Regions from separate parts of the Homo sapiens genome. Here region 2 is linked to region 1. The links come from fine-mapping of genetic effects on gene expression. A gene starts in region 1. The other region holds a variant in brackets. All regions are shown on one strand. Distances are from middle to middle.

Region 1 (5,389 bases):
TTTGTCTTTTGTGGGGGATGTGTTGGATTTAGAATTTGTGTTTTCAAGTAATTTCAAATTTAATGACCTGCTTTCTACAAAATATCCTAATCTCCTAATATAACCTATTTACAATTACTAAATTAGAAAATTGATCTATCATATGAATTTCCTTTTGCCATGCATACATATGAACTGACCTTAAGATCACAGTTACCTATCTGACTTTTAAATAAAATATTATTAAATATTTTAGGGTTTTTTTAAAAAAAAACTTTTTGAACTGGTATTTGCTCAAAACACAGTATATCAGTATCCAATTAAAGTTGCACAGCACATTTAGCATAAGAAAAAAATAGTGACTTTTTCTACTTTTGTAAACAGTGTATAAAAATTATATAAACCCATGGCATGATTTAAAAAAAGAAAACTATAAAACCACCTTGAACATTGGGAATTAATTCTTACATTCTAAACCTCTCCTCACCCTATCATTTTCTGTCTCTGTAACAGATGGATATACATTCCGATATGAAAAGTTTTGTTGATGTGTGTCTTCATAAACCACCTTACTTTTATAAAACACGCAATAACATTTCTCCATATAAGAATATAAGACATGAAGAACATACGATGGGCATAGATACTGCTTCTTTTTCCCCTTCCCTTTCTTTGAAGACTTTTCCTTAGAATAGGCTTCTTCCACCCACAAGGAAATTAAAATTAAAAAGGCAGTTGTCAATAAAAACTTCATCTTGAAAACTTGAATTTCAGAAGATCGATCTACAAGAGAGAACAAGAAAATGTTTACATTTATGAAGAAAATGATAACTATATGACTGTCCCTTTAAAGAGTATAAGCATTACTACCCAAAGGGCAAGTACATTTGTACATCAAATCCTCATTGCTCAGTCCTATGTGGTAATACTTCACAACATATTTAGTATTTTTTATATAGTAGTTGTAAAGTCTTTTTTATATAGCAGTAAAAGTCAGTTTAAATAATGGCACATAGAAAACAAGACCGCCAACGAGATATAATAGGTTACTGTATAAAATTTCTGATTCTATAGCTACACAAAATTATAAATTGATATTGAATTGCACAGTATATCAAAAATATGTTCAGAAAGATATCTGGAAGCATGGTTTAACACAGCGTTAAAATGATTATCTTCGGCTAGTACTTTGGAAGTATCTTTTTCTTTTTAAATTTTTATATTGTTTGAAGTTCTTATGTATATTTTTTCAAAAATAATGTATTTTAAAGAAAAAGAAATTCTAAGTATTAAAAAAGACAGATAAAAGAAAAAGTTAATATCAAAGAGTTCCACATTCAAAATTCATTGCTTTTTTTATTTAAACACATTACATTGGCAAGCTACCTTTTTGCCCCAAAAAGGTGCCTCTTAAGTTAGCTTTAAAGCTTTCTTACTTATTTGCTACTAACATTTGTCATCAAAAAGATTACTTCAGAAATTCTACAACAAGAAATAAAACAAGTGTTGTTACATTTTTTTCAAATTATCGTCCTAGCCATATTTTAATAACATTTTCATGCTCAAATCAGAACCATATTCTTGCCAGAGATTCTGATAAATAAAAAATAATTAAGCCTCTACCTACACTAGAGAAGTTCAAACTCTTCTGCAACCTTCATTTCCAAACCATAAATTGTTTCTCTTTCATTGTTTTCCGCAGAGTAAAAGACCTGTCATATTCTTCAACGCTAACTTAATTCCCATCTCACCCTCAGAAATTTGCTTCTCCTTATGTCATGTTTTTCATCTTCCCCCCCCCCCCCCAGGATTCTTCCCCCCATATTTATCTTTTACACACACTCCAGGCAAGCCAGAGGGGCTTCTCCCTGGGTACTTTAAATTGAAGACAACAGAGGGGGCTCATCAGACCAACAGCAACAACACAAGGTTCTCCTCTGGCAACTTCACAACATTGGACGCTCCCTTCCCCCATCCGACAGCGGCACCTGCTTCCAGACACCTTGCCCACAGCAGCAGGTACTTCTCCCACTTTCACATCCTTGCCCCCGCAAAAAGGAGGGCCGAGCCCCCCTAACGCTTCGAAAAACAGAGAAATTCACCACTCTGCTCTGTCCTCACCCCCAATCTTTCAAGGGGGACAGCTGCATTGACTGGAGGATCCTCATAAACAAAACAACGCAAGGAGCCCTCCTGGCCAACCTTGCGTTTCCTAATTACCCCGGCCCTCTGCATCTCTCCACCCGGAGCGTCTCCGCGGGCGCCACCGCAGCGGGGACCCGGCTGCCGCTGCCAGGCGCCCCGCGCCCCTCTCCCGCGCAGGGCAGCGCGCGTCCTCCCGGGCACGCCGCAGTGCTCCTCGCGCTCCGCCGCCCCGGGCTTGACCCGCTGTTTCCGCAAAGGCGTCTATTCCCGTCCTCAGACCACCGTCGCCGCCCCAACCCGCGTCCCCTCCTCCTAAGTGGAGCTCCTGGCACTTACCCGGAGGCGCCCCTGCCCACAATCGCCGGGCGAGATCGTGGAGGCTCCGGGCCCAGGTGGCAGTGGCTGCTAAGGGTGCAGCGGGCGCCGAGCGGGGGCAGCTGCGTCCCAGCCGCCCGCGCCACCGCCGAGCTCGGCTGACGCGCCTGCTCGGGCCGCGGAGCCTGCGCCGTGGCGCGCCGCGGTCGGGGCCGCAGCGGGGACAGCGCGGGCCGCGGGGGAACCTGGCGACCGCGGGCGGGGGAGGGAAGAGGTGTCCCGACAGAGCAACGTCACGGCATCGTCCCCTTCAGGCATTGGAGGGGTTACCGAGCAGAAATGTGTACCCCCCTCACTCCTTAGGGGACTAAAGGAGTTGGGGACGAAGGGCGGGAATGATAGTGTCGGTACAAAAAGAAAAAACCTTTCAAGGAGCTGGGATTGCTTGGGGTCAGCTTTTGACCACTAGCAACAAACAACAGAGCAACAAATGACCTTCTTGGGTCAAAGCGAACAAAACACATTTTCTGTCATTTCACCATTTGCCTGGAACCCAGACATCCAGCTTAATCTCCGGGTCTTCCAATTTCTAAAAGCCTGAACTTTCTGAGCAAGCTTAAATTGGTCAAAATTACTGACAATATAGTCATACAGGTAATACTATGTTTAACATCTGTTACATAATTAACATGTGTACAGAACTTGACAGTTGCAAAACACCTTTCACTCGCCTTATCTCATGTGGCCCTCACCACATTCCTGGGCAAGTTTTGTCATCCCCTTCTGTAGATGAAGAATCTGAAACTCAGTTATATTAAGAGATTTACTTAGAGTTACAGATCTTGAAAGAAATTTACCAGAGATTCAAAATTAGTGATTTTTGCATATCTGAACCAGACAGGGTCTCTGCCTTATAAGAGCAAAATACTGTTGTCCTCATCCTTGTGAAGAAGTAGCCCTTACTTGGATATGCAGCCCTTAGATAACAGATAAGGCTATCCTATTACCTCTTGAATGTATGCCTGATTGATTTTTTTTAATTGTTATTTTTTAAGCAACAGGAGCTCACTTTGTTGCCCAGGCTGGAGTGCAGAGGCACAGTCATCGCTCACCGCAGTCTTGAACTTCTGGGCAATCAAGAGATCCTCTTGTCTCGGTCTCCCTAGTAGAGTAGCTGGAACAACAGACAGGCCATTGCGCTCCACTAATTATTATTATTATTTTTTAAGAGACAGCATCTCTGGCTTTGTTGTCCAGGATGGTCTCCAACTCTGGCCTGAAGCCATCCGCCTGCCTTAGCCTCCCAAGCTGGGGGGCTTACAGGCTTGAGCCACCCCACCCCACTGCACCAGGTCCTGATGGATTTTTTTTATTAAAAAAGCATTGTCTCAAGTGAGCATCACTTAGCATTGTATTGTGGACCCACAGATGTATCCACTAATAAATTTTTCCACCCGCAGCATATGGAGGGAAGGAATATTTCCTGCATATAACCGTGTTCCATAAGCTTCATGAGATATTCTGCTGCCTAAGAGTAGTGATCATTAATAAGTGATCATTACCTTATTTACATTACAAAATGATCATTATTCAAAGAGCTGTACTGTTTGAAGACCCCCCCGCCAAAGTGGATCAGGATATAACTTTGGATTTTAATGCTTTATTAGAGAGAACTATATTGATAATATACGTTTCATAAGATATAACTTTTGGTGAATAGGTCATATGAAGAATGATAAAGGAATTAGTTTTCATGCAGCCAGGGGAGTTTAGAAGTTGGCGAAAACCTTACACTTAGTTTTCAATTAATCAAGAAATTATTAAGAGTTTAGAATAATAGGAATTCCGATTCCTGTAATAAAATGAACATCTTTTATTTACAAACTCTAATGTCCACATTTGGAAGAACTATGCTGAAAATACCTACAACAGACTTGCTCACCTTCCCTAGTATTGTTTCTGTGCCATCCATGGATGTTATATTGGAGAATTAGGTTATTCAGAAGAAAAGCAAGTCCAGCAGGTTGGATGGGTTTGTAGGGTTTTGGCCCAAAGGTTAAGAAATATAGTTGATGCCCTAAAAGCACTTCTTCTAGCCTGTAAAATGGTCAAGTTCAGAATTCTGAAAATTTTTTTCTATGAAAGTGATCTGCTTACCTATATTTCTATAACTTTTATATCATAGTGTGAAAAGGGATGCTTCTAAATAATGTCATGAAATAACCTATTTTCCCCAATTCTGTCAAGTGTTGATCTACTTTTCTCTATTTATTTCTATCAATATTCACTCCTTTAGTAATTTCATCTGGTCACAAGGTTTTAAACACCATGTTGATAGCTCCCATATGTACTTCTCCTGACTAGACATCTCTCCAGAACTCCAGACTCATCTATCTAACTGCCTTTTCAACATTTCAACTTGCGTATTTAATAAACATGTCAAACTCAGTGTGTCCCAAACTGAGCTATGGTTCTCCCTAAAATCTGCCCCACATTCAGCCTTCTCCTTCTCAGTTCACGGCAACCTCATCCTTAGGGTTGGTCAGGCTAAAAATCATGAAGTTGTTCTTGATTCCGCTCTTTTTCTCACACCTCACAACCAAATCTCTGAGGAAATCCTGTTTACTCTCAAATGACAACAGGAATTCAGCTACTTCTTATGATTTTTACTGCAGCCAACCTAGACTCAGTGACTTTCATCTCTACGTTAGATTACTATAATAGCACTTTAGCTACTCACCCTGCCTCTATCATTGTCCTCTCCTACCCTTGAGTAATCTCAAAACAGTAGCCAGAGTGATCCCTTTAAAACATGTCATAGGTCATATTGTGTCATTCCTCAACTCAACACCCAGCAGTTAGTCCCCATTTTATAAACCAGTGTTTACAATGGTCTACAAACCTTCAATTGTTATGCATCTCCTCCCCCTAACTCTGACTTCTTCTCTCC
Region 2 (5,389 bases), 400 kb after region 1:
AGCTGGCATTATTCAGAATTGGTTATAGGAATCCTTCTCATAAGTAAATACTTACACAGAATGATGAGAAACTAAATTACACTGCTAAATCATGTCTATATTTCATCGCGTAGTACTTAAATGAACAATGCAGAAGCCATCTAGTAACATATTCCACTGCTTTTTACTTTTAAGAAGCAGACCTCATTTTTCTTGCTGGAAAGTGAAAAAATATAGTTTGACAAAAACTGACCTGGAGTAGAACTAAGAGACAAAAATTAAGCATGAATACAAACAGTTCTTTCCAGGATAAAAATAGCAGAACATTGCACTGGCTTTCCCATTTGACTTTGTAATTTGTGGATGTAGAACACACTTAGTGGCCTTCATGGGCTGTACATGTAAAAAAGTTGGCTGAAGGATGCAGACAAAATGGATAATATGAGCTCATCTGTCTCCAAACACTGTTTGGTTAATGACTGTGTAGACTACAATTGTTTAATTGTACCTGGAAAAGCTAAAAAATGACTAAGCTTAAAAATGTCAAAGCGTATTCGCATTTGGATTGGCCAATAGTATATTTGCCCATATTTCTATGCAAGGTCAAAGTTAGGAGAGGATATATCTAGATATTCTATGACACCCCACAGGTCTCATAGATGTAATTCTTCATTGGGAATATTTAATATGCCTTTTTAACAAGGTGAAAACAAAAGCACACAAAAAGAGGTTATACCAAATATGAGGCTTTTTAATTATTAAAACCTTTATTTAAAAATGAATTTGCTGCAGTGTGAAAAATGCAAGTCATGATATGCTATCCATGCTTTTCCTTTCACCTCCTTCCTTGCAGTTGTCAGGTGAGAACCATGCTAGTGGTTCTGGCCAATGGACTGTTAGCAGAAATGACTTGTGTCAGGTCTGGGTTGGGATAGTTTAGAATTGGTGAGTCTCTTTTAATGCAACCAGTCTTAAAGGCACATGTTCCGAATGGCTGGATATTACTTACATTAGGGCCATCCAACACATATCAGTCTCTATGGAGTGAGAAATAAACCCTGTGTCTCTTAAGCTTTGAGATTTTGGGGTTTGTCTGGTAGCAAGCATCAAGAATCCTGATTAAAATATAATGTTACTAGTTTTTAAATAAGTATGTAAACTATATTTTTATATAATTGTTACAAATAAAAGTGTTTAATTCAATTATTGCTTATTTATTTACAAATAGATAATGTATTAATAGAGTTCATGATTTAAAAGTGGAATGGGCTATAGAGTGAAAAAGCCCTTTTCAATTTCTGAACCCCTGATCACCGATTTCCAATCCGTAGGGACAGACAATGGCAATAGTTACTTATATCTATTTCCAGAGATATTCCACATATATTGTATTCTTTTTTGCACAGATGAAAGCATACTATATACTATTCTTTATTTTTCTTTTGGTTTACAAGAAGTCTTCATATATTAGGAGTATTGGCCTTTTGTCTATGATATGTATTGCAAATGATTTTTCTCACAATTTCATCTGTCTTATGACAAATGCTTTTCTAATGAAAAATCATTTATTTTAGTTGAATTTATGTATCAAACTTGGAAGATTTCTGAGATGATATTTTAAAGTGCTTACCTGCTTTTGTCTCTATCTTTTGTTGTTTTATTTCCTCACAGTTAAAATCTTGATAAACCTGAGGAGAGTTTCTAATTATGCATCCAACTTTAATGTTTTCCTAATAGCTACATAGTTGTCTCAATTCTATTAAATACTTTGCTCACTGATTTGAAATGCAACTTTTATCACATCTACTTTTCCATAACTTCTTGAAGCTATTTCTAGATTCATTAGGTCATTATATTGATGTGTCTCCCTATTTGTGTGCCAGCATCAGTCTTCAATTCATGCTAATAACTTCTACACTCATTGCTTCAGTGAAATTTCTCTTGTCCAAAGAAGATGTTTAATACACTGTGGAAGTCCTGGCCATATGTGGCAGTTGAGGAAAATGGGATGAGAGCTATCAAACAAGTAGCAGGTGGTGTGGAAAGGGAAGGCCTCTCAGAATCACTGTATTTTTATTTGTTTTTTGAGACAGGGTCTCACTCTGTCACCCAGGGTGGAATGCAGTGGTGCAATCTTGGCTCACTGCAAGCTCTGCCTCCTGGGTCCAAGCAATTCTCCCATCTCAACCTCCCGAGTAGCTGGGATTACAGGCGCCCGCCACCATGCCCAGCTAATTTTTGTATTTTTAGTGGAGACAGGGTTTCACCACATTGGCCAGGCTGGTCTCAAACTCCTGGCCTCACGTGATCCACCCGCCTCGGCCTCCCAAAGTGCTGGGATTGCAGTCGTGAGCCACCGTGCCCGGCCAGAATCACTGTATTTTTAAATAGTAAGCCTGAATTATTATTTTTTCTTCTTTTTAATACTTTGGGCTATAGAAGTGAGGTTATATAGAGCACTGGGAAGGTAAGCTCATTGGTAGGTACCTACATCTTCCTATATCTTCCCATTGCTGGTAATTTGAATCTGCTGATATCGCCAACTCAAGTTAGGAGTGGAAAGTGTCTGGTTAACCTTTTTTTTTTTTGGCTCAGAATGACTCATTTTCCCCCCAAAAAATTAATAAGAAATATTTCAGAGAGATTATAGTAATACACATTTTTAGTTGTTCAAAGTTCTCCTTGGAAACTGACTGAATCAGGGTAAAAATATAGACTCATAGTTTATCTGGTATAGTTTACATCACTCATTCAATATTTTGGATATCTCAAGTATGAGAAAGACTTTGAGAAAAGTAGATAATTTTAAATAAGAGCCTAAACAGGCTAGAAAATATTTTTAAAATAAGACCTAACTCCTAAAAAGGAAACTCAAACAAAGAAATATTGTTTCTTTATGATTTTCTGTATGGTTTAGAAAATGTTAAGGAAATTGCACTCAAGAGCTTGACTATAAAATTTTAGGCTTTAAAAATGAAGTTATTCTGAATCAGCTGTAAGTAGAGCTAGTGATCTTATTTTCCTTGTAAACAGGCCACTTATCATCAGTCTCTTACCTTGGACTTTGT[C/T]CTTGTTTTTGGCTGTTTGCTTTAATCTGACTGAAATATGACAGAATAAATTATTAGTGTATAAATGTTCACATAATTTCTTCTTTCCTCAACCCATTGAAGAGAATAGCAATCATCCCTGTTTTGCTCCTCTTGAAGAATAAGCCTATCAGTTCCCTGTTGTATAACAAACCATCTCAAATCTCAGGAACTTACCATAATAAGAATTCATTTAGCTCATCAATCTACGGCCAGATATTTAGGCTAGGCTTGGTGGGGATATTCTCATCTTGAGTGGTTTGATGTACAGGTCTGGTGTACACTGGCTGCCAGCTAGGTCAGCAGCCATATCTGAACTGACAATCTCCCATCCTCCAGCAGGCTAGCCTGGATGTATTCTTATAGTGCTGTCATAGAGCAAGAATGAGAACAAACCCAGTCGGTCAAACTATTTCCCAACCCTCTGCTTATGTCCCACTTTCCAAAATTTCAGTGGCTAAAGCAAATAACATGGCCAAGCTTAGGGTGAGGGTAGCGGGGGCTATAAAATTTCGTGCCAAAGAACATATTCATAGAGAGGAGTGAGCAACTGGGGTTGTTCATACATCAATTGATCACATTGAAAAATAACAATGTATTGAAGGAAGAGATGTTAATTAATAAGTAATCATAATTAATAGTTGATGCAAAATGATATAAGGAGCGGGAAAGAGAAGAAATGAAAGCATCATGAACTGGGAGTAGAGTACGATTTTTTTTTCTTTTTGGGCGGGGAGGGAGCATGCACGAGAAAGAAACCTGCCAGGAAAGTGGAATGGAAACAAAGGGTACTTTAATGGGTGTTTCTAAAGACTTTTTATTTGCAGTCACTTTAATGTCATCCAAGAGGTCATAAGAAGAAATTCCTCTTTAATCACTTTTGGCTCTTGAGCTGTAATTTGTATGTGTCACAGCTCCATGACTAAACTGCATTGATCTCTAGATTCAGAAGTGGTTACTGCAGACACTGCAGCTTGCATGCCCACAGTCATACTCCTCTTTTACATTTTTAACAGATACATTATTTTGGTCCCAACTGCAGTGTCATCTGGGAAGTCGAATGCCTCTTTGAATGTGCCGATTGTTAAGTACTATAAGCTCCAGACCTATCCTCTGTTCTTTTCTTTATGATTGTTATGGCTGGAATTCTGCAAGCCATTCTTTTCCTTTGCCCGCTGACTCCCTGTTAGGTCCTGCCAATAGGGAGCATTAAAGGAAGTGAAGAAGAGACAAGCACCTTCCAGATTGCTTGCTCTAATAATTCGCTCTTCATCTCAGCATTTGGTTTGAGTAACAGCAGTTGCTACCAGTTTCCAATCTTTTCTGTATTTCAAGAACTAGCTTCATCATGCCAGCTCAGAGGTATCAGTGCCAGATGGCTCAAGTTCCCTCTACAGAAGTCTGAGTCCCAGCTCTGTAGGATGTTCCTTTGAACTGTTAAGGCACTAGCACCAGCAGCAAACTTCTGTTTTAGGCTTGAACTGGTATCTGACCGAAAGCAATTTAATTAACCTCAAGGGGCCTTAGTTAAAGAGGTTCTAAGGTTGCTATGATTTCTAGTATTGTCTCAATATATTTGTCTATGCGATGCACTCCCCCTTCACGCACAAAACTGATTGAGAAGTGAAAATTTTGAAGTGTTTAATTTAGGAATTATTTCCTTTGTTTATGTTATTCTAGACAACTGATCTGATAGACTTCTTAGATTCACTAAATTATCAGGTTGCTAAGAAGAGGAACTCTTTAATAAAAAGTAAATGTAAAAGGTAGAACAGAACACATTAATTTGGAGTGAAGAGAGCTTGCCTATGTAAGAGTATATTGGAAATTAAAGACAACACTTGTAATAGAAGAGAAATTTTGATGAACACTAAATTCACTTTTTCCTCACAACTGCAAATAAGCCTTTTCTGTTTCTGATTCAAAAAGCTTCCAAGAGTTTAATTTTAACTTTATAACTTTCTAGATTTGTATTTCCCTAGTTAACAGTAAATCCTTTCCAATTGTCTTCCTTTTTACATAATCCTCTAACAAAATGTACTTATAACTGCAAAAATTTGCAGTAATGTTTCATGGTGGTATACATCCTGAGTAAAGTGGCTACTGCTGAATTTATTATTTATATTAAACCATGAATTGTTTTCCCAGTGCTTATGGGTAGCCCCTTTCCCTAGCAATTAACATAAATTTTTGGTGAACAAAGAGCTTATGGAAATGGAAAAAGCAAAATTCATATTTGCTGGACTTTCTAGAATGGCATGGGGATGTGGAAGGAAAGGAATGTGACTTTGCCTTTCTTTTGACTTATTAATGATTCTGCATAG

Direction of the effects. Alleles are on the strand shown, and positions count from the first base shown. SD is a standard deviation of normalised expression in the study named.
For the expression in adrenal gland of the gene that starts at base 2,608 in region 1, C is the high allele of the variant in region 2 and T is the other (moderate effect, 0.54 SD a copy in GTEx).

What was found.
Region 2: its variant is fine-mapped to the expression of GLRB in adrenal gland (GTEx, PIP above 0.99).

The regions. Positions count from the first base shown.
Region 1 is chr4:157,073,369-157,078,757 of GRCh38, reverse strand. GLRB (glycine receptor beta) reads right to left here and starts at 2,608. Exons shown (of 10, transcript NM_000824.5): 1 at 2,461-2,608; 2 at 612-762. The coding sequence starts at 733. RefSeq lists a silencer at 5,207-5,389.
Region 2 is chr4:156,671,722-156,677,110 of GRCh38, reverse strand. No RefSeq gene overlaps it. Among named protein-coding and RNA genes, the nearest start is that of LINC02272, 32 kb to the right of the region's middle. The variant C/T (reference allele first, on the strand shown) is at 3,048.